3 separate regions of the Homo sapiens genome follow, and regions 1 and 3 are each linked to region 2. Evidence: fine-mapped expression QTL. A gene starts in region 2. Each other region holds a variant in brackets. All regions are shown on one strand. Distances are between the middles of the regions.

Region 1 (7,398 bases), 83 kb before region 2:
CCACCATTCTTATAAACTCAAAACCTCCATGTTTAGACCATTCCTCATTCCTCACTCTGTATATTCAATCAGTCACTAAATTTCCTCATATTTTGTCTGAGCCCTGTTTGTACTCTTTCTGTTACCTGGTTTAAGCCCCTTCCTATTTTACCTGGATTACTATCAGAACCACCACCTACTCTCTCTCTCTCTCTTTCCAGTTATATTCCTAAAGAGCAGCACCAATTACTTCATTCCACCCATGCATTTATTTGCTCATTATTTCCTTTATTCATGCATCAAATACTCATGCCATTGTGTGCCAGGCAATGGGAATACAGTGGTGAACATGTCAGAGTCCCTTCCCAAGGAGCTTACTATCTGGAGATGGATACAGACATTTCAGCAAGCAATCAGAACTCAGAGTGATAGGTGGTATGACAGGGTCACCAAGGGGAAGGAGTGAGCAGGACCAGTGTCCAACTCAGTTGGTGGGGGACAGGAAAGGCTCCTGGTAGAAATGATATGTGAAACCTTAAGAGTAAGTTAGAGTTCAATGTTTCATTTATGAAATGTGTTATAGAATTGTGACTCAGATTATTCAGACCCCTTAGATGTCATCTAGCCAAATCCCTTACCCACTACACCAAAAACTCCCTCTTCATTCCAAGTGTACATTCATTTCTTATTTTAATAAGAAGTAATACTGCTGGGTGCATCGAAATCTCAGAAATAACTGCTAAAGAACTTATCTATGTAACCAAAAACCACCTGTTCCCCAAAAGCCATTGAAATAAAATTTTAAAAAGAGGCTGGGTGCAGTGGCTCACACCTATAATCCCACTTCTTTGGGAGGCTGAGACAAGTGGATCACTTGAGATCAGGAGTTTGAGACCAGCCTGACCAATATGGTGAAACCCATCTCTACTAAAAATGCAAAAATTAGCTGGGTGTGGTAGGAGGTGCCTGTGGTCCCAGCTACTAGGGAGGTTGAGGCAGGAGAATTTCTTAAACCCAGGAGGCAGAGGTTGCAGTGAGCTGAAATCACGCCATTGCACTCCAGCCTGGGCAACAGAGCAAAACTCCAACTCAAAAAAAGAAAAGAAGAAGAAGAAGTAATACTTATGTACACATTTATTTAAGCCAAAGTCAAATTTTTATTTGGGAAGATTTTGTTTATTACTAAATTTCCTTAAGTCATGTACACCACACACTGCACATAGTCAGCACTCAAATGATTTGCTAAATGAATGAATAAATGCAGGATGACAATGTTTACAAATACAAATGAGTTAGAGTTCACCATCAATACAGAGCTATGAGGGGAGGTGAAGATCCAGAGGCAATAGAACAAGGAGTGCTCAGTAAACTAGAAGAAGCTCATCATTTCAGTTGGTGGATATATAAGGAATGAGGCCAGAATGACAAGTCAAGGGCAGATCAAGAAGAACGTGAAAAGCTCTGCTAAAAACCCTTCAAAGGGGGAATTTTCAACGTATTGGGTAAGGAATTTGGCTAGATTATAGCTAAGAGGTTTGAATGAATCAAATCTTCAAAGATGTACCAAGTTAAATGCAGTTTCCCCATCCTGACACTCAAGACTGTACAACACATCTCAGTCTCTCAGTCTACCCCCTAGTCTTTTCTCACTTGCTAGTCTTTTTTCTCTCTCTCTCTCTCTCTCTCTCTCTCTCTTTTGAGTCAGGGTCTCACTCTGTTGCCCAGGCTGAGTGCATTCGTGTGATCATGGTTCACTGCAGCCTCGACCTCCCAGGCTCAAGCTATCCTCCAGCCTCAGCCTCCTGAGTAGCTGGAACTACAGGCGCACACCACCATGCCTGACTGATTTATTTTCCATTTTTTGTAGAGACGGGGTTTCATCAGGTTGCTCAGACTGATCTCAAAATCCTGGGCTCAAGCCACCCACCCATCTTGGCCTCCCAAAGTGCTGGGATTACAGGCATGAGCCACCGTGCCCAGCCTCACTTGCTAGTCTTTTACAACACTGACTGTTCTATGATGTTGCTTATGCTTTGTCCTCACTCTAGGACCACTCCAAACTTGGTTTCGGTTCTTAACATTCCAACATGGAATGAGAAAAATCAACATGTGAAATCCAGGAGTGGTAAGTAGATCTATAATAGGTTGAGGAAACAGACAGAATAAACTATTCTTCAATATACGAAAAGTTAATCACAGTGAGCTTAAATAGTTGTTCCTTTAGTATACTCGAGTGTCGGTTTACACACTATGAACTGCTTTACAAAGTCCCTGAACGGGGGAAGAAACATAAAGCATAAAATGCAAGGAACTACTGCCAATCAAAGGCAAATCCAAAATAAATATAGTCATCTTTTCTGAATGGGAAAAAAAAAAGAAGAAAGTCATATTCTATTTACTAACATTCATTTCACACATCACTCTTTAGAAATGGATTTCTTGCAAAAGTAAGATGCACTTAAATTATTCACTAATAATGCCATCATTCAACCAAAATTTACTGGGTGCACCAATGTGCCAGGCAGTACAGTATACAGCAGGGACAGGGCCATAAGCAGGTGGGCTTTCAGAGCTTAGTATTTGCTGGGGAAATAGTCCCACAGCAGAGAATACAATAAGCTCTAATATCCGCCTTGGCAGCCTGTAAGGGTCAAAGAAAGCCATTCCAGATTAGATGGAACGAAATAATGAAATTATAGCTGGGGGTGGAGGGGAGTATCAGCAGTCTAGGCTTTAGTCCTGATTTTGCGAACAAGTTACTATATTGTATTCGGGCATGACATTCCCAACTGTAGCTCACTGCAGCCTCGACTTGCAGCCTGGGAGGTCTAGGCTGCAGTGAGCTACGATCAGATATGTCATGCCCAAATACGATTACAGTAACTTATTGGCCTCTATATTTTTGGCCTTGATTTCTCCACCTGTAATGTGAGGTCATGGATTAGGTGATTCTAAAGTCCCTTTAATTCAATATGAATCAAAACTGAGAATAATTATTAGAGGCTTGGTTTCGAACAATTGAAAGACCAGAAAATTATGCAAGTAACTAAGTGTGATCGTTGGAGTGTGGGAGGGGGTAATATTGTTTTTGATGTGATTCTGTACTTATGCATCAGGGAACATGAGCATGAAGATTCTCTTCAAGAAGCAGCACTGCCTATAGCCATGATGTGGTGCAGCTTCCCAGTAGCTGGGTTGATGGTTTGGGGAACCAGTAACATGATAGACAATTTAGAAATGAAGAAACTGAAGCATCGCAAAGTTAAGCACCCGAGATGATACCATAGATCAACTGTAAAGTGCACAAATAATTTGCACGAGGTTGTTAATTATATTATTCTCTAATTAGTCTGCACTTGTTCTCCAAACAGTGATTTCTTAAGATAAGAATGTACATGTATTCAAGACTGTGCTCATCACTTACCAGTCTCTGGTATTAGATCATCTATTTGTTTGGTCTGTTTATTGTCTGCCTCTCTCTCTAGAGTATAATTCCATGTGGGCAGGAGCTTTGTCTCATCTTGTTGTATCTCTCCAGTGCCTTGGAACTGTGCTGGTGCAAAATAAGCACTTAATACATATTGTTGATTTGATGGAAGGATGCTTAAAAAGTACTCTGAGAGAAACAATATATTTCTCAACTCTGAAGGAAAATTTCATGGAACACTTGAAGTTAGTGAAAAATACAGAATAATTTATAAGCAAGAATCAAATTATTTAACATAGATTTGTGCTCTAAAGTTGAAGAAATCAAGTAAAATGATCAGTAAATTCTACAGCAATTGAGAAACTTCAAAAAAAATGGAACTTGAATTAGACTCTGAAAGGTGGAAGTTTTGGGTTTGGAATAAGGGAGATGGGAAAGCAGTGAATGAAGCCAATGAAAATGGCGCATGAGACCAGACAGATTTAAGAAGAGTTCCTTTTGGGGAATAAAATGGCAAGTAAAGTTGTAAGAGCAGGTGAATCACAGCTTTTGGAAGATCCTCCAAGAAAAAGGAAAGATTCAGACTTGATGTGATAGAGACAGGAAGCCCAGAAATAGCAAGATTAAAATCTTGCCTCCCAAATTAGATTGCAGCAACCCTCCTTTTCCTTGGGCCCTCAACCAACAATGCCCAAAGCTGGTCATGCAGTAGCTGTTTAATTAGTACTTGCTGATTCATAGAATTCCAATCAAAGACCCGGCTCTTCGATCAACGCTTTATTACTCACAGACAGACCCCACTGGAAAGGGGCAATGGTGCAATTTTATTTCCCATCCATCTTTTGTTCCCTTTTTCCTGCCTGCTACTGTTTAGAGTCCAGAAAAAAAAAAAAAGTATTACGAACTAAGTCACTGCCTCATTAGGAAGCAGGGTCTGATCTGAAACCAATTTTTCAGAACAATGACTTGTTAAGTGCTGAGAAATGCAGTGTTTAGTCATGGAGAAAATAAAGACAGCTTTACCATGCAATTTGGTTTTTTTCTATACTAAAAGATGAGAATTTTAACAAGTGGAGGGAACCAGTCCATTATCAAGTCCCTCCTCCTTCAAAGAGGGAAACAGAACATGCTTTTTAGTGCACAAACAGAAAAGGCTTCTTCTCCCTCACTCCCCGTATTTTCTTGCTTAAAATTCAGAATTAATGTCAGCCTTGCAAGAAGGTGAGGAAGCTCAGAAAAGAGGGTGTGTAGAGC[C/T]CAGAACAAATCTCCTTGCGAAGGACAGATTGGGTGAGCATTGTCAGGTGAGAGTGTATGGTGAGCAGTCTTCCACAGTTATCAGTGATGACTGAAGGGCAATGAGGTCTGGATACTGAGAGGAGAAGTTATGGAATTTCCAGAGTAACAAGTCACCTGCAAATATCAAAATGACATGGACAAAAGGTGATGCTAGTTTTATTTAAGAAGTATTTCAGAATAAGTCAGTGGGAATAATGTCTATCCTATCATTTATATGGTCTCTGAAAGATAAATGGGTAGAAAATGAAAACTATTTGACTCCATCCATTAAGAAGCCCACTGAAGGAAGAAGAGAGGCAGAATACTAATGCAACAATGTCATTTTGGCATAAAATAGAAGATACTCCAAGATATTCTTCCTATAGCTTAGAACGCACAGTTCATTGTCCATTTCCTCTATAGAGTCATTGCTTTCTGTCTGCTCCTGGTCACATATTTTAACTGTAACTTCAACAAATTAGTCAGCAAATTTGTACCATCTATCACAAGGACACCAGTTCAGAGAATAGAAGTAGCTCTAACTCATGTTTAAGTTCACTTTTGGAAGAAACATCTAAAACATAGGTTCTACAGATGGTTAGCCTACCATATCAGATTTTTATCTAAAAATATCATGTAAAACAAAGCAGTCAGAGAACATCCCCTCCCTGCCACTGGGCAGGCTTTCCAGAATCTCAAGCAGTTGCTCTTCCCTTGTCCTGAGTGGTCCCATCCTGGTCTTGTTGAAGAAGATCGTGGAAATGGAGGTTTTGAGGGCACACCCCTAACTACTGCATATTTGTCATTCCCTCCTCTTCTCTTCCCTTCTAGCTCTCAGAGCATATGAGTGTAGATGTACTTTTAATTTGGAGATACACAGATTAGCCCTTCATTATTAGCTGTACTATGCTTATATTTCAAATGTATACATGTTAATTTCATCTCCCGTCTACTCTAACTTGTATGCTCTTTGGGGTGAGGGATTAGCTTCACTTTTGTGTCTCCCAAAATGCCTATAAAAAATGTTGGGCCAACACAGGAGGATTACTTGAGCCCAGAAGTTTGAGATCAGCCTGGACAATATAGTAAGACCTCATCTCTAAAAAAGTAATAAGTAAAAAAGAATGCTGGGTACATGCTTTGGCAAACAGTTTAGCAGTTCCACAAACAATTAAACATAGAGTGACCATATGACCCAGTGGTCTAATCTTATACCCTAGAGAAGTGAAAATATACATAAACATATGAAAAACTTATACACAGATGTTCAGAAAAGCATTATTTATAATAGCCAAGAAGTGAAAACAGCCCAAATATCCATCAGCTGATGAACAGATAAACCAAATATGGTATATTCACACAATGGAATATTATTCAACCCCGAAAGGAATGAAGTACTGATACATGCTACCATGGATGAACCTTGAAAACATTATGCTCAATGAGAGAAGCCAGTCATGCGCAGAGGCTCACGTCTGTAATCCCAGCACTTTGGGAGGCTGAGGTGGATGGATCACTTGAGGTCAGAAGTTCAAGACCAGCCTGGCCAACATGGTGAAACCCCATCTCTACTAAAAATACAAAAAATTAGCCAGGTGTGATGGTGGGCGCCTGTAATCCCAGCTACTTGGGAGGCAGAGGCAGGAAAATTGCTTGAACCCAAGAGGCAGAGGTTGCAGTGTGCTAAGATCTTACCACTGTACTCCAGCCTAGGTGACAGAGAAAGACTGTGTCTCAAAAAAAAGAAAAAAGAAAGAAGCCAGACATAAAAAGCCATATATCGTATGATTCCATTTACATAAAATGTCCATAATGGGCAAATCCATAGAGACTGAAAGTCGATTACTGGTCACCAGAAATGCAGGTGGAGGAACAGAGGGTCACCGCTAATGGGTACAGGATTTCTTTTGCGGATATAAAAATGTTCTGAAATTAGATAGTGGTGATGTTTGTACAACTTTGTGACTATACTAAAAAACCACTGGGTCATACACTTAAAATATGAAAATTTTATGGTTTGTGAATTATATCTCAATTTTTTTAATGTTGGGCACATCAAAAAATAAGTGAAAGTGAAGTTTCCAAAGATAATTTAGGGAAAGAAACCCCAGAAACTATGCCTACCTGTCTTTGGTACAGTCATTCCTTCCCGTTACCACATTGTGAGCTAGAGGCCTTCTCCACTCCTGGACTCTTACCTGAGAGAGGATGTGTAGCAGCCGTGAAAACACACTGCTTAGGCCCCCTGCTGCAGGGGAATCACTGACTGATGGCTCCAGCTGCTACTCCTCTGGATTTGCCACCACATTTGTGCCAGGCTTCCACGGGCTGCTCTCAACCAACGGCTGGCCACAGCAGGGGTACTAATGCAGGCTTATTCTAGCAAGACAGAGAGTCCTCCAACAGGCAACTTTAGCTTGAGGACTCCCCATCTATCTGGCACCACCAACAAGTTTAGTGATGGTTCTTCTCTGCAGGCCAGCGTTCATGATTGGAAAGGCAATCAGAGCTGGGCTCCTTAATATTCATGTATACTATGGGGCCCAAAGACATAGAGGCTTGTGGCAGGGAAAGGGACTTAACACACAGAGTTTAGAGATGGTGAATAGAGCCTATAATGTTCCTGGGGCAAAACAGATGGACAGCCATCAAGGGTGCTACTTAACATCTACAAGCAACACATACACACACACACACGCACACACTAAAAGGAAGAA
Region 2 (7,398 bases):
AAAGTTCTGGGATTATAGGCATGAGCCACCGCACCCGGCCCAGAGTAATTTTCTATTCCAAATATGAAAATTCCCTAAAATAACTTGGTGTTCTTTAATAGGCTAGCCCTGCTCAATCAAAAATAGTAAATTAAAATGAAATGTCTTCGATTATTTTAGGAAATCTATGTAAGAAAAAAAACTAAGTTTCAGGTGTGCCTTTTGAATTTTGTACCAGATGAATGTATGTTTTTTAAACATTAAAGTGCAGATTTTTAAAAATTAGGGTGCGGATTTTTAAAACAGATTGAAGGTAAGTAGAGAGGAATAGGGCTCTTACCTCCAGCCACTGGAAGGAAGAAAGGCATCTGGGGCGTGTAGGAAAGGATCCCAGGGTAGAAGATAGGAGTCCCTAGATTCTAATACTGGATCCTCTGTGACTAGTGTGGAATTTTGAGCCAGTGAATTCTCCCCACAGGTCTCAATTAAATCATCTGTCAAATGAGGGTGACGACATCTTCTCTACCTCACCACTGAGCTGTGAAATGAACCAGAGGCCTTACTTTTTTCCCCTGAACTCCCAGTCATCCCTAGAACACCAATTTGAACATCATCTCCTTCAGGAAGCCCTCCTAGACTTTCCCAGCCAGTTAAGTTAGCGGCTCTGTCCTCTGGATTTCAAAGAGAAATGTCTCTAGCATCATCCCTGTTTCCTTGCACTGTCCTACTTTCTTTTTTCCCTCAGAGCCAGGAATGTCTTAAACAGAGTGAGATGCTCCCAAGGGGCCACCAGCTCACAATTAGGAGTTCAATAAATACTGACTTAAGAGTGAATGAATGATATCTGTGTCTTTGTCCACATTTGTACATGTTTACATGATTCTGCAAAGAATCTAAATTTCTCTTTACATTAACAAACAGGGGGGCTGGGCACGGTGGCTCAAGCCTGTAATCTCAGCATTTTTGTTAACCAGGACAGCCCTGACAAAATAACTGGGAAAGTTCCTTTTTCTTATTGTTTTTCTTTGGTCCCTTTATCTATAGACACTGCTGCTTAAAGAAACCAGATGGCGCCAGAGCTTCTTGACCCCTGACCAGATGCCAGAGGAAGATAAGACACCATAAAACCAGCGCAAATGGGAACTGGCAAACCCTGGGTGCCTTTAGATCATGAACATATCATTATAATGCTAATTTCCCTTCCCTAAAAGAAAATCTCTGCCATTTTGTGTACATATGATATATGAAGATGCATGTTTATGAATTGGGCCTGCGTGTCTGGAGTCCCACCCTGCACATACTAACATTCCTTTCCTGCCCCATAGGAATAAAGGCAATAAACCCCTTGCCTTTTATTCTTCAAGAAAAGATGCTTTCAGAGGAAGAGCTCACCTTCTCCATTCCCTGGCAAATGAATAAAACCTGATTGCCTTTTTCAATGGGATATTCTTTGTTTGTGACTGATACACAGTGGGGAAAAAACTCATTTTATCAGGGACACTTTGGGAGACCCAGGCCAGAGGATTGGTTGAGGCCAGGAGTTTGAGACCAGCCTGGGCAATAGAGCCAGACCCCATTTCTAAAAAAAAAAAAAAAAAAAAAAAAAAAAAGTTTTAATTAGCCAGGTGTGCTGGCACACAATTCAAGTTGTTTCACCTTTCTGGACAGAACCAATATACACCTGAAATGTATTTGATGTCTCATCTCTCCCAAAAATGTATAAAACCAAGCTGTGCCCCAATCACCTTGGGCACATGTTCTCAGGATCTCCTGAGAGCTATGTCAAGGGCTATGGTCACTCATAGTTGGATCAGAATAAATTTCTTCAACTATTTTACAGAGTTTGACTCTTCTCATCAACACAATGACAAAAAACAGTGGTCCTGGGATATAAAATCATAGGCAATACAAATATTTAGTGTTATTTTCTTGAAAATATGGTTTTATCTTACAAAAATTTTCAATTCTGTTGGGGATGTCAATTTTTTTTTCTTTCCAGACGTAGTCTTGCTATGTTGCTCAGGCTGGTCTTGAACTCCTGACCTCAAGTGATCCCCACCTCAGCCTACCAAATAGCTGGGACTACAGTTACATGCCACCATGCCCCCCCCTTTTTTTTTTTGGATGGAATTTCTCCCTCTGTTGCCCAAGCTCTGGAGTGTAGTGGTGCAATCTTGTGTCACTGCAACCTCCGTCTCCTGGGTTCAAGCTATTCTCATGCCTCAGCCTCTTGAGTAGCTGAGATTACAGGCATGTGCCACCACGCCCAGCTAATTTTTGTATTTTTAGTATAGATGGGGTTTCACCATGTTGGCCAGGCTGGTCTCCAACTCCTGACCTCAAGTGGTCCACCTTCCTCGGCCTTCCAGAGTGTTAGGATTACAGGCGTGAGCCCACACATCTAGCTACCATACCCTTTTTTTTTTTTTTTTTTTGAGTCTTGCTCTGTCGCCCAGGCTGGAGTGCAATGGCACCACCTTGGCTCACTGCAACCTCCGCCTCCCGGGTTCAAGTGATTCTCCTGTCTCAGCCTCCCAAGCAGCTGGGACTATAGGCGTGCGCCACCACGCCCGGCTAATTTTTGTATTTTTAGTAGAGACGGGGTTTCACCATATTGTCCAGGCTGGTCTCAAACTCCTGACCTCAGGCGGTCTTCCCACCTTAGCCTCCCAAAGTGCTGGGATTACAGGCATGAGCCACCACGCCCAGCCTCCATGACCTTTTTAACGAAAGAAATGTTGCTTTTTAAGAAGTCTGGCGGGGATAGAACTCCCTATAGTCTCCATGATTTGTTTTACTTGTTAGCTAGTGCCTAACTCTTTCAAACGCTTTAAAATGCTCAACAGACACTTACCAATGAAATGAGTGATCTGCTTAATGCTTTAAATGAAGCAAGACAAATTAAACCCTTCATGGACTCTTCCCAGGGCTGGACAAAAATATTTATGTGGGTCAGACGCAGTGGCTCACGCCTGTAATCCCAGCACTTTGGGAGGCCAAGGAGGGCAGATCACCTGAGGTCAGGAGTTCAAAACCAGCCTGGCCAATGTGGTGAAACCTCGTCACTACTAAAAAAAATACAAAAATTAGCTGGGCGTGGTGGCGGGCGCCCGTAATCCCGGCTACTCTGGAGGCTGACGCAGGAGAATCGCTTGAACCCAGGAGGCAGAAGTTGCAGTGAGCTGAGATCGCGCCACGGCACTCCAGTCTGGGCGACAGAGCGAAACTCCATTTCAAAAAAAAGAAAAAGAAAAAGAAAAAATTAGCCAGGTGTGGTGGCGGGCGCCTGTAATCCCACCTAATTGGGAGGCTGAGGCAGGAGAATCGCTTGAACCCTGGAGGCAGAGGTTGCAGTGAGCTTGAGATTGTGCCACGGCACTCCTGCCTGGGCAAAAGAGCGAGACTCCGTTTCAAAAAGAAAAAAAGAAAAGGGCCGGGCGCGGTGGCTCAAGCCTGTAATCTCAGCACTTTGGGAGGCAGAGGCGGGTGGATCGCCTGAGGTCAGGAGTTCGAGACTAGCCTGGCCAACATGGCGAAACCCCGTCTCTACTATAAACACAAAAATTATCAGGGCATGGTGGCGCGCCCATGTAATCCCAGCTACTGGGGACGCTGAGACAGGAGAATCGCTTGAACCTTGGAGGCGGAGGTTGCAGTGAGTCGAGATCGCGCCACTGCACTTCAGCCTGGGCGACAAGAGTGAAACTCCGTCTCAAAAAAAAAGAAAAAAAATCCACTTGTACCTTCTGCTAATCAGTGTATATATTCAAGGCAACTTGAATCTATGCTCCTGGGGTGCAATCCTCAAGCTTGGCCCAAATAAACTCTCTGCTTGCATTTATTTTGCCCCAGAGTCTTCTTCCTTTTAGGTCGACACATCCATATCTGAGACCTAGGGTAATTTTCTGGGCTTCTCGCCTCTCCCTTTCCCCCATGTTTTTCTGTGCTCTCTAAACGGGCCCGGTAGAGTCCCGCATTTCCACATTCCACAGACATGTTTTCCTTCTGTGGCCCCGGGCCCTGCCAGACAGCGCACCGCGAGGCCGGCACTTCGGCGGTCTCCAACCTTTGCCTGGAAAGAGCTCGGCAGGCGAGCTAGAGGCCAGATCCCAGGACCCAGTCGTTTTAGCTCAGGGAAAGGAAGCGCCGGAGCTCCAGCCTGCAAGCTCCACTACGCAGCCTTGGACACCGCCCACATCGTAGGGCCGCGGACCCTGACAACGCCGGAACCCGGCGCCCGGAGCGTGCGCGCGGCGGACCAGAATGGCTGACGTACCGCCCTGCCGCGAGGCCCGCGTAGAGGCGGAAGTTGAGGGGACTGACGCAGATGGGGGAATTTTGCCTCGATGGCACTTTCCTGTCCGCGACTCCGCCCCCACCAGAGGGGCTAGGCTCTGGGATTCAAGATGGAGGCGCTGAGTCGAGCTGGGCAGGAGATGAGCCTAGCGGCCCTGAAGCAACACGACCCCTATATCACCAGCATCGCAGACCTCACGGGCCAGGTCGCTCTGTACACCTTCTGCCCCAAGGCCAACCAGTGGGTGAGTGCCGCCTGGCCCTGAGGACGGCCACCCGGCCGCTGCCGTCTCTTAAAGGGGCCGCGCGGGTTACTGTGGGGTGGGGGGGCACACTAAGAGGCCAGGGCGGTGGAGACGAGGCCAGGGTCTGGCCAAGAGCCTAGCCAGAGCCTGAGGGGTGTCGGGTCCGCTTGGGATTGGGGGATAGGAGTGAGAGAAGTGGCTCGAGACATCCCAAGGAAAAGCCAGTGGAGGGGAGGATTGGAGCAGGATCAGTCCCTTGGCGTCGGGTCTGGGGACGTGGGCGACCTGCCTTCTTTGCAGATACATTGGGAGTTATAAGACCGGTGGGGTCAAAAGGGTGCCTGAAAGCTTGTGTTTGAGGCTTTGCGGATTATTAGATAAATTATATGTACATTATCTATAAAATAAACACTCCTCCTCTCCCCCTGGCAAACGTAAATGAGAGCCCCTGTCGCAGAGGTCATTTGGGTTTAAAGTTTAAAATCCAATTAGTTTCGATTCTTGGAAGGAGGGGGTGGGTGGGTCCGGCTTTAATCGAACTACACAGAGTTTCGGAAAAGATTCCAAGGCACTTAGGAAAAGGGCTTCCGTGTTCACTGGATCCCCGAAGACCTTTGTACAAACAAGAGAGACCCTGTAAATGTGTTTTGTTCCATCTATGATGCTGGTGATGTCATCTCTGAATGCTCCCCTCGGACTCAGTACTTTCTGGCTTTCGTGCACTGGGGAGGGTCCGAAAAGTCACATTCAGTGTGTTCACTGATTCTTGTTAGCCCCTGCTTGAAGCTTTGTTAGTTGTTTAAAAAGCATAATTTCCCACTTTCTTGTAATTGACCCTTCCTAATTAACTCATTCAGCTACAGGCTTTACACTTAGAAAGTAATACGTAAATGCTTGTTGGATTGAATTCACCAATGACTGGAGTTCACATTTCAATAAGATACGAAATCCTTAAACTGACAGAACTCTGGAAGATGACCGTAGTATGTCGTTTACCCTATAATACAGTTGCATAGATTATATTTATCAGTAATTTATCGAAAATCATTTGGCATTTATGAACAGTTAATTCAGATGAAGAGTTTTTATAATCACGTTGTTTATCTTTGCCTCCTGGAAGAGAAGGAGATATGGGAAGCCACAAGGAATAAAATTGTAGATTGTTTTTTAAATGTAGCTATTTTAGACATTGCCTTAGTTTGAAATTTTATGAATCTTTTTTCTTTTCTTGGCCTATATATAAATTTTGAAATATGGATTGCCGACAAATGGTGAAGACTTGGGGCTAGAGTTTTCCTAGTTTTTCACAAAGGCTTTCAATATTTTAAAATTTTACATTGTGGAGTTCTGTTTTAAATATGAAATACAAGCTATAATAACCTGAATTGAAAAATAAGCTGCTACTGTTTATTTGGATCCTGGCACATAGAGCATGACAAAAATCTTTTCCCTCTTTATTATTTTACAGTGAGTTGTAACTTTGCATGATGTTTTTTGGTGGGCAAATTTTCTTTTACTGTAAGACAGTTGATTACCAGTTTCTTATAGTAATAACCTAACATTTTAAAGGTAAGAAAAAGCCTCTGAATCCTTAGGAAGGAAAATAATGATATTTAAGCTAGGGTAGTACTTCTGGAAGAAATCGAGATGATCAATTTTCTAAATTTTTTAATCCCAACACATTCAATATATGACTAACATTTAAAATGTTAATAATGCGTTGATTACAGTAAAATATTTAGGTCCATTGTAGGCTGTAAATTGCAGACTAATAAGCTTATTTATTTTTTAAAAAACACTGAACTGTGTTTAAAACCTAAATACACTCTTGTCACAGAAAATGAACTATGGTAAAGGCCTCCAATAATTACACTGAGGCAGGGTATACTTTCAGTATTCAAGATTCTTCAAGTTCTAAAAATAACAAGCTGATTTTGTTTGGTAGTAATTCTTAACCACAAAATTTGCTAGTTGTCAAAATGTACGAAAACTCCCTAGTGATGAAACAAAGTATCCTATAAGAAAGTTTCATTCCTTTCCTTTTTTAAAATTAACTTGGATAAACTTAAAAGAGAAGAAATTGCAGTATACAGGACCTTAGCTTTAAAGTTAAGAAATCTGGCTAAAATATTTTAGCTATAAAAAGTGAAGGTTTATTCTATGATTTTCTCCTTTACTAATTAAAAAAGAAAAATACTGCAGATACAGATATGTTGCTGGATTAAATATTGCATATGCTTATGCACTGAAAGGATACATTAGAAATGGTAACCACAATTTGTGGAATGAGAGGGAGACTTTACCTGTTCAAAAGTGGTTAATTTTATAATAGATGAAATGAAACAAGTTGATCTTAAACGTGAAGCATTACTTCTCCATGGGGACTATTTGGGGTCTGATTATGGGGAAAAAAAACTAATTGAGTCATTGTCTTTCATAGGAGAAGACTGATATAGAAGGGACCTTATTCGTATATCGAAGGTAAGTTTTTAAAATATGTATATTTGTTTTTAACAGTCTAGTGGTGAACAATGTGAAACGGTTCAATTCTCTTGTACATTTGTCTTTGGAACCGTCCTGCTAGTACCCTTCAAGTTTTCATCTTTCCCTAGCTGTGAAATCTTAACCAGGTTCTTTCTTTTCTCTGAGCCTTTCTGTGATTCAGAATAAACTGAACTAGAATTTATATTACCAGCCTAGCAAAGCAATTTCAAAATAATAATGATTGAGTCTAAAATGGATGCCTGCGTCTCTCTTCCTACCCCCATATTAGAAAGAAAAAGAAAGATATATATTTGGGGAAAAGACAATACATAGACTGGCTCTGTAAAATAATGTTATTGAGAGGTCGATCCCTCTGTTCTTTCATTACTACATG
Region 3 (7,398 bases), 82 kb after region 2:
TGGTGGCACACGCCTGTGTACCAGCTACTTGAAAGGCTGAGACAGGAGAATCACTTGAACCTGGGATGCAGAGTTTGTGCAGTGAGCCGAGATTGCGCCCCTACACTCCAGCTTGGGTGACAGAGTGAGACTCCAACTCCAAAAAAAAAATGAGTAAAATAAAATATTGGGCCAGGCGCAATGGCTCACGCCTGTCATCCACGCACTTTGGGAGGCCAAGGTGGGTGGATCACGAGGTCAGGAGTTTGAGACCAGCCTGGCCAACATGGTGAAACTCCGTCTCTATTAAAAATTCAAAAAAATTAGCCGGGCGTGGTGGTGGGCACCTGTAATCCCAGCTACTGGGAGGCTGAGGCAGGAGAATCACTTGAACACAGAAGGCGGAGGTTGCAATGAGCCGAGATTGCACCACTGCACTCTGGCCTTGGTGACTGAGCGAGACTCCGCCTCTAAATAAATAAATAAAAGAAACACCTAGGTTAGTGTGTGATTGAATAACTGGGTACTAGTCTAGCCAAATTGACACATAAAACTGACCATCACAGTATTTTTGTTAAATTTCCAAATTTTCTACATGGAATATGTGTTACTTGTATAATATTTTTTAAAAAGCAATAAGTGACAAAACCACCGTAATGAGGTAACACTTTGCACCCACTAGGATGCTTCAGGTAAAAAAGATACAACAACAGGCCGGACGTGGTGCTCACGCTTATAATTCCAGAACTTTGGAAGGCTGAGGCGGGCAGATCACAAGGTCAGGAGCTTGAGACCAGTCTGGCCAATATGGTGAAACCCTGTCTCCACTAAAAATACAAAAAAATTAGCTGGGCATGGTGGTGGGTGCCTATAGTCCCAGCTACTCTCAGGAGGCTGAGGCAGGAGAATCGCTTGAACCCAGGAGGCAGAGGTTGCAGTGAGCCAAGATTGCGCCACTGCACTCCAGCCTGGGTTACAGAGCAAGGCTCCATCTCAAAAAAAAAAAAAAAAAATACAACAACAACTGTAGACAAAGTCATGGAGAAACTGGAACCCTCATTCATCACTGGTGAAACTGTAAAATGGTGGGGCCACTTTGGAAAATAGTTTGGCAGTTCCTCAAATGGTTAGATGACCGTTTGTAGAATTGCTGTATGACCCAGCAATTCCATTCCTGTGCATATACCCAAGATAACTGAAAACACAGGTCCACAAAAAAATGTTTATATCACCATTCAAAGCAGCATTATTCATAATAGCAAAGAAGTGGAAAAAAACCAAATGTCCGTGAACTGATGAATGGGTAGGAATATTGTGGCATATCCACAGGATGGAAAATTATTTATCAACAAAAGGAATAAAGTACTAATACAAGCGACAAGGCGGATGAACCTTGAAAACATCACACTGAGTGAAAGAAGTCAGACACAAAGATCACAAATTGCAATGGTGCCATTTATATGAAATATCCAGAATAGGCAAATCCATAGAGACCACAAGTAGATTCCTGGTTGCCTGGAATGAGGAAGAGGGAAAAATAGGGAACTATCAATGAGTACAGGTCTCTTTTTCTGGGTGGTAAAAATGTTCTAAAACTAGGCCAGGTGTGGTGGCTTACATCTGTAATCCAAGCATTTTGAGAGGCTGAGGCCAAAGAATCACTTGAGTGCAGGAGTTCAAGTCAAGTCTGGGCAACATAGGGACACCCTGTTTCTACAAATAATAAAAAAAACTGGCTGGGCATGGTGGCTCACACCTTTGCTGTCAGCAACTCTGGAGGCTGAGGTGGGAGGATGGTTTAAGCCCAGGAGGTCAAGGCTATGGTGAGTCACTGTACTCCAGCCTGGGCAACAGAGAGACCCTGTCTCAAAAAAAAAAAAAAAAGAATAAGTTCTAAAATTAGGTAGTGCTTAGAAGTGCACAAGCTGCACAATCTGTGAATATACCTATGGTATAATACAAAATATATTTGGTCTTTTTAGATTTGTTTAATTTTTAAAGATTTTTTATTTTTATTTTATATATATATATTTTTGGAGACGGAGTCTTGCTCTGTCGCCCAGGCTGGAGTGCAGTGGCGTGATCTCGGCTCACTGCAACCTCCGCCTCCCGGGTTCAAGTGATTCTCCTGCCTCAGCCTCCCAAGTAGCTGGGACTACAGGAGCACGCACTGCCACACCCGGCTAATTTTTTTCGTATTTTTAGTAGAGACAGGGTTTCACCATGTTGCCCAGGCTGGTCTTGAACTCCTCGGCTCAGGCAATCTGCCTGCCTCAACCTCCCAAAGTGCTGGGATTAGAGGTGTGAGCCACCACGCCCGGCCTAATTATTATTTTTTAAGAGACAGAATCTTGATCTGTCACCCAAGCTAGAGTGCAGTGGCACAATCATAGCTCATTGCAGCCTCGAACTACTGGGCTCAAGCAATTCTCCCACCTCAGCCCCTGGAGTAGACACTTGGCTAATTTTTTTTTTTTTTTTTTTTTTTTTTGAGACGGAGTCTCGCTCTGTCACCCAGGCTGGAGTGCAATGGTATGGTCTCGGCTCACTGCAACCTCTGCCTCCCGGATTCAAGCAATTCTCCCACCTCAGCCTCCTGAGTAGCTGGGACTACAGGCGTGTGCCATCACGCCTGGCTACTTTTTGTGTTTTTAGTAGAGACAGGGTTTCACTATGTTGGCCAGGCTAGTCTCGAACTCCTGACCTCATGATCTGCCCGCCTCGGCCTCCAGAGTAATGGGATTACAGGCATAAGCCACCATGCCCAGCCCAAATTTTCTTTATCCTTTCATCCTTTGGTGGATGCTTAGGTTACTTCCATATCTTTTTTTTTTTTTTTCCTTTTTTTGAGAGAAAGTCTTGCTCTGTCACCCAGGCTGGAATGCAGTGGCACGATCTTGGCTCACTGCAACCTCTGCCTCCCAGGCTTAAGCGATTCTCATGCCTCAGCCTCCCGAGTAGCTGGGATTACAGGCACGCGCCACCACACTCAACTAATTTTTATATTTTTAGTAGAGATGGGTTTTTGCCATGTTGGCCAGGCTGGTCTTGAACTCCTGGCCTCAAGTGATCTGCCTGCCTCTGCCTCCCAAAGTGCTGGGATTACAGGCATGAGCCACTACACCCAGCCTGCTTCCATATCTTGATGAAATATATTTAGTATTTGTCCCTAGTTCCTGTCACAGGGCTGAAAACCCTTGGAATTTGCTTAGCAGAAGGCATGTCTTTTGTTACTCATAAGCCACTCTTTGATCACACCTGCGTTTATGCTAACACAGTGACTTGGGGTGAGGCCTCTAGATAGGCTCGGGATGGGGCAGTCACCAGAAAGACCAAGTAATTAGAGGATTAGAGGTCTGGAACTTTCAGCTCCCTCTCCCCGCATACCTCACCCTATCTGTCTCTTCATCTGGCTATTTCTCTGATTCCTTTGTAATATCCTTTATAATAAACGGGTCATTATAAGTAAAATGTTTCCCTGAGTTCTGTGAGCC[A/C]CTCTAGCAAGTTAATTGAACCAGGGACGGGATCTTGGGAACCTCAATTTATAGTAAGTTCCTCAGAAGTTGCAGAGGCCAAGACCTGTGATTGGCATCTGAAGTAGGGGACAGTCTTACGGACCTGAGCCCTCAGTCTGTGGGATCTGACACTATCTCCAGATAGTGTCAGAATTGAGTTGAATTAGAGGACACACAGCTGGTGTCCACTGCAGGATTGCTTGATGGGGAGAAATCCTCACATATTTTGGTGACCAGGGACCACAGAAGTGTTCTGTGTTGTAGTGACTATATGAGAATTAAAAAAAAAAAATTAATTTATTTTCTCTATCCCTCAACACCAAAAATCATTGAATTATACACTTTTAAGGGAGGGTAGATTTCACGGTGTGTTCATTTTATCTCAAAATGAGATAAAAAATGTGATTAAGAAAAAAAAAAAAGAGGCTAGGTACAGTGGCTCATACCTATAATCCCAGCACTTTGGGAGTCCGAGGTGGGTGGATTGCTTGAACCCAGGAGTTTGGGACCAGCCTGGGCAACACAGCAAAACCCCATCTCTACAAAATAATTAGTAGGGCATGATGGCACACACCTGTGGTCCCAGCTACTCGGGAGGCTGAGGTAGGAGGATCACTTGAACCCGGGAGGTGGAGGTTGCAATGAGCTGAGATTGTGCCACTGCACTCCAGCTTAGACAACAGAGTAAGACCCTGTCTCAAAAAAAAAAAAAAAAAGAGAGAGAGAGAGAGACAGAGAGAGGCAATAAATGTGAAAGGAAAAAGAGGGGAAAGTCATGTGTACTTGGGTGGGCTGGCTCCCAGCAAAGTCGAGGAGCTGGTGCGTTTTTCTCCTGTCTCCAGACTCCCTTTCCTCCCCTTTGTCTCCCTCTCATGGGGCTCTTGCCCAGTCCCAGGACCCTGGAGTTTGCGGACATCGTGGTGAAAGTGATTTGCAAAACTCATCTCAGAATTCTCTCCTCTCATTGCACTTCCCTTTGCTACTGGCCAGAGGGGTCCAATACACTCCCACCCCCTACACGTAATTGCCCAGAAAAGTTTATGGGTCTATGACCTGAAAACTATCAGAAGTCTTCCAGCCCTACTAAACCTAGCTGGATCTGCTTTTCCCAGACAGAAAATGGCCCCAAGGGGCTCTGACTCGGCACACAGGGCCTGGCACAAGGGGAGAATTCAACCTCTGCATGTAGCAAGAATAAGCCTCTCTTACAGATGTGAGAAACAGGACTGGAGAAAGGGCTCCACTGAAGGCCATGCAGGTTTCGGGCTCCCTCTCTCCTCTCACTCTGTCAATCCCACAATGGGACCTTGCCAATTGGAAGCAAAGGTGATGAGTGGCAGAACCAGGCTTTCTGGCCAGCCCTCAGCCAAATATGTACCCAGATCTCTGGCAAAACTGCCACCTTCCTCTCAACACCTGCTGAGGACTCTGGTTCAGGAAATAACTCACCAGGAGGACAAGATTTAGGCACGAAAATGTTAACTGCAGGGCAATACCCAATGATTAACAGCTGGAAGGGGTCTGAGCGTTCAGCCCTAAGGGATGGTTAATAGATGAGGACACGGCCCTATGATGGGACAATGCACAGCTAGTAAAAATGATTTCTTCGAAGCATTTTGAAATGCTAATGAGAAAATATAGGGGGAAAATGGTTTTACATGATCCTGACAATGGATTTTTTTTTTTTTTTTTTTTTTTGTGACGGAGTTTCACTCTTTCGCCCAGGCTGGAGCGAAGTGGCGCGATCTCGGCTCGCTGCAACTTCCACCCGCCAGGTTCAAGCAATTCTCCTGCCTCAGCCTGCCGAGTAGCTGGGATTACAGGCACACGCACAGCTTCCTGAGTAGCTGGGATTACAGGCGCCCCCCACCACACCCAACTAATTTTTGTATTTTTTAGTAGAGATGGGGTTTCGCCATGTTGGCCAGGCTGGTCTCAAACTCCTGACCTCAGATGATCCGTCCACCTCAGCCTCCCAAAGTGCTGGGATTATAGGCATGAGCCACTGCATCTAGCCGACAATGTATTTTTTAAAACAAGGAATTCACAATAGCAAACATACTGAGCAATGACTGTCTTCAGCCTTGCCTGACAACCTGAAGTGTATATCCAGCCCCTGACCCCTGACCCTGACCCTATTGTATTTATTTATTTACTTTTGAGACAAGATCTGGCTCTGTCACCAAGGCTAGAATGCACTGGCTCAATCATGGCTCACTGCAGCCTCGAACTCCTGGGCTTAAACAAGCCTCCCACCTCAGCTTCCTGAGTAGCTGGGACTACAGGTACAGGCCACCATGCCCGGCTAATTTTTAATTTTTTTTTTTTTTAAATGGAGTCTCGCCCTGTTGCCTAGGCTGGAGTGCAGGGGCACGATCTAGGCTCACTGCAACCTCTGCCTCCTGGGTTCAAGCAATTCTCCTGCCTCAGCCTCCTGAGTAGCTGGGACTACAGGTGTGCACCACCACACCCAGCTAATTTTTGTATTTTTAGTAGAGATGGGGTTTCACCATGTTAGCCGGGCTGGTCTGGAACTCCTGACCTCAGGTGATCTGCCCGCCTCGGCCTCCCAAAGTGCTGGGATTACAGACGTGAGCCACCGTGCTCAGCCTAATTTTTAAATTTTTAGTTTGTAGAGACAGGGTATCACCATGTTGTGCAGGCTTGTCTCATGCTCCTGGACTCAAGCAATCTTCCTGCCTTAGCCTCCCAATGTGCTACAGGTGTGTGTGAGTCACTGTGCCCGGCCTATTTTCTTCATAACAATTATATATAATAAATCAATATTTGTCAAATGAGCAAGCAACTTTAACAGTAGTCCCCTTTGAGTGGAATAGTCCATGATTTTAGTTTACTTTGAAATTTTCTGGGCCAAGTATGGTGGCTCACGCCCGTAATCCCAGCACTTTGGGAAATTGAGGTGGGTGGGTCGCTTGAGCCCAGGAGTTCGAAACCAGCCTGGGCAACATGGCAAAACCCCATCTCTACCAAAAATACTAAAAATTAGTCAGGCATGATGGTGCATGCCTATAGTCTCAGCTACTCAGGAGGCTGAGGTGGGAGAATCCCTTTGAGCCCAGGAGACAGAGGTTGCAGTGAGCCAAGATTGTGCCACTGTACTCCAGCCTAGGCAAAAGCAAGACCCAGTCAGAAAAAAAAAAAAAAATTCTGTACTTTTAAAGTTTTTCCGATGACTATGTTTTACTTCGATAATCAGAAATTGAGTGTTTTTAGGCCGGGCACAGTGGCTCACACCTGTAATCCCAGCACTTTGGGAGGCCAAGGCTGGTGGATCACCTGAGGTCAGGAGTTCAAGATCAGCCTGGCCAACAGGGCAAAATCCCATCTTTACTAAAAATACAGAAATAGGCTGGCCACAGTGGTGTATGCCTGTAATCTCAGTGCTTTGGGAGGCCCAGGCGGGCAGATCATGAGGTCAGGAGTTCCAGACCAGCCTGGCTAACATAGTGAAACCCTGTCTCTACTAAAAATACAAAAATTAGCTGGGCACGGTGGTGTGTGCCTGTAATCCCAGCTACTCGGGAGGCTGAGGCAGGAGAATTGCTTGAACCTGGGAGGCTGAGGTTGCAGTGAGCTGAAATCGTGCCACTGCACTCCAGCCTAGGTGACAGAGCGAGACTCTGTCTCAAAAAAAAAAAAAAAAAAAATAGCTGGGCCCAGTGGCACATGCCTGTAGGCCCAGCTACTCAGGAGACTGAAGCACAAAAATCGCTTGAACCCGGGAGGCGGAGGTTACAGTGAGCTGAGATTGTGCCACTACACTCTAGCCTGGAGGACGGAGCTAGACTCTGTCTCAAAAAAAGAAGGAGGAGGAGGAGGAAGAGGGAAGAGGGAAGAAGGAGAAGAAGGAGAAGGAGAAGAAGAAGAAGAAGAAGAGGAAGAG

The links. PIP is the estimated chance that this variant, and not a neighbour inherited with it, causes the effect.
Region 1: its variant is the best candidate, but not a certain one, in a credible set for the expression of DCP1A in whole blood (INTERVAL, PIP 0.70).
Region 3: its variant is the best candidate, but not a certain one, in a credible set for the expression of DCP1A in testis (GTEx, PIP 0.54).

The regions. Positions count from the first base shown.
Region 1 is chr3:53,427,555-53,434,952 of GRCh38, reverse strand. No RefSeq gene overlaps it. Among named protein-coding and RNA genes, the nearest start is that of CACNA1D, 63 kb to the left of the region's middle. The variant C/T (reference allele first, on the strand shown) is at 4,661.
Region 2 is chr3:53,344,505-53,351,902 of GRCh38, reverse strand. DCP1A (decapping mRNA 1A) reads left to right here and starts at 4,360. Exons shown (of 10, transcript NM_018403.7): 1 at 4,360-4,520; 2 at 6,961-7,001. The coding sequence starts at 4,386. It overlaps LOC105377094 (a long non-coding RNA gene), which reads left to right. Exons shown (of 3, transcript XR_940847.3): 3 at 1,024-1,133. RefSeq lists enhancers at 3,866-4,635, 4,171-4,761, 4,762-5,352.
Region 3 is chr3:53,262,340-53,269,737 of GRCh38, reverse strand. No RefSeq gene overlaps it. Among named protein-coding and RNA genes, the nearest start is that of TKT, 10 kb to the right of the region's middle. RefSeq lists an enhancer at 1-137. The variant A/C (reference allele first, on the strand shown) is at 3,474.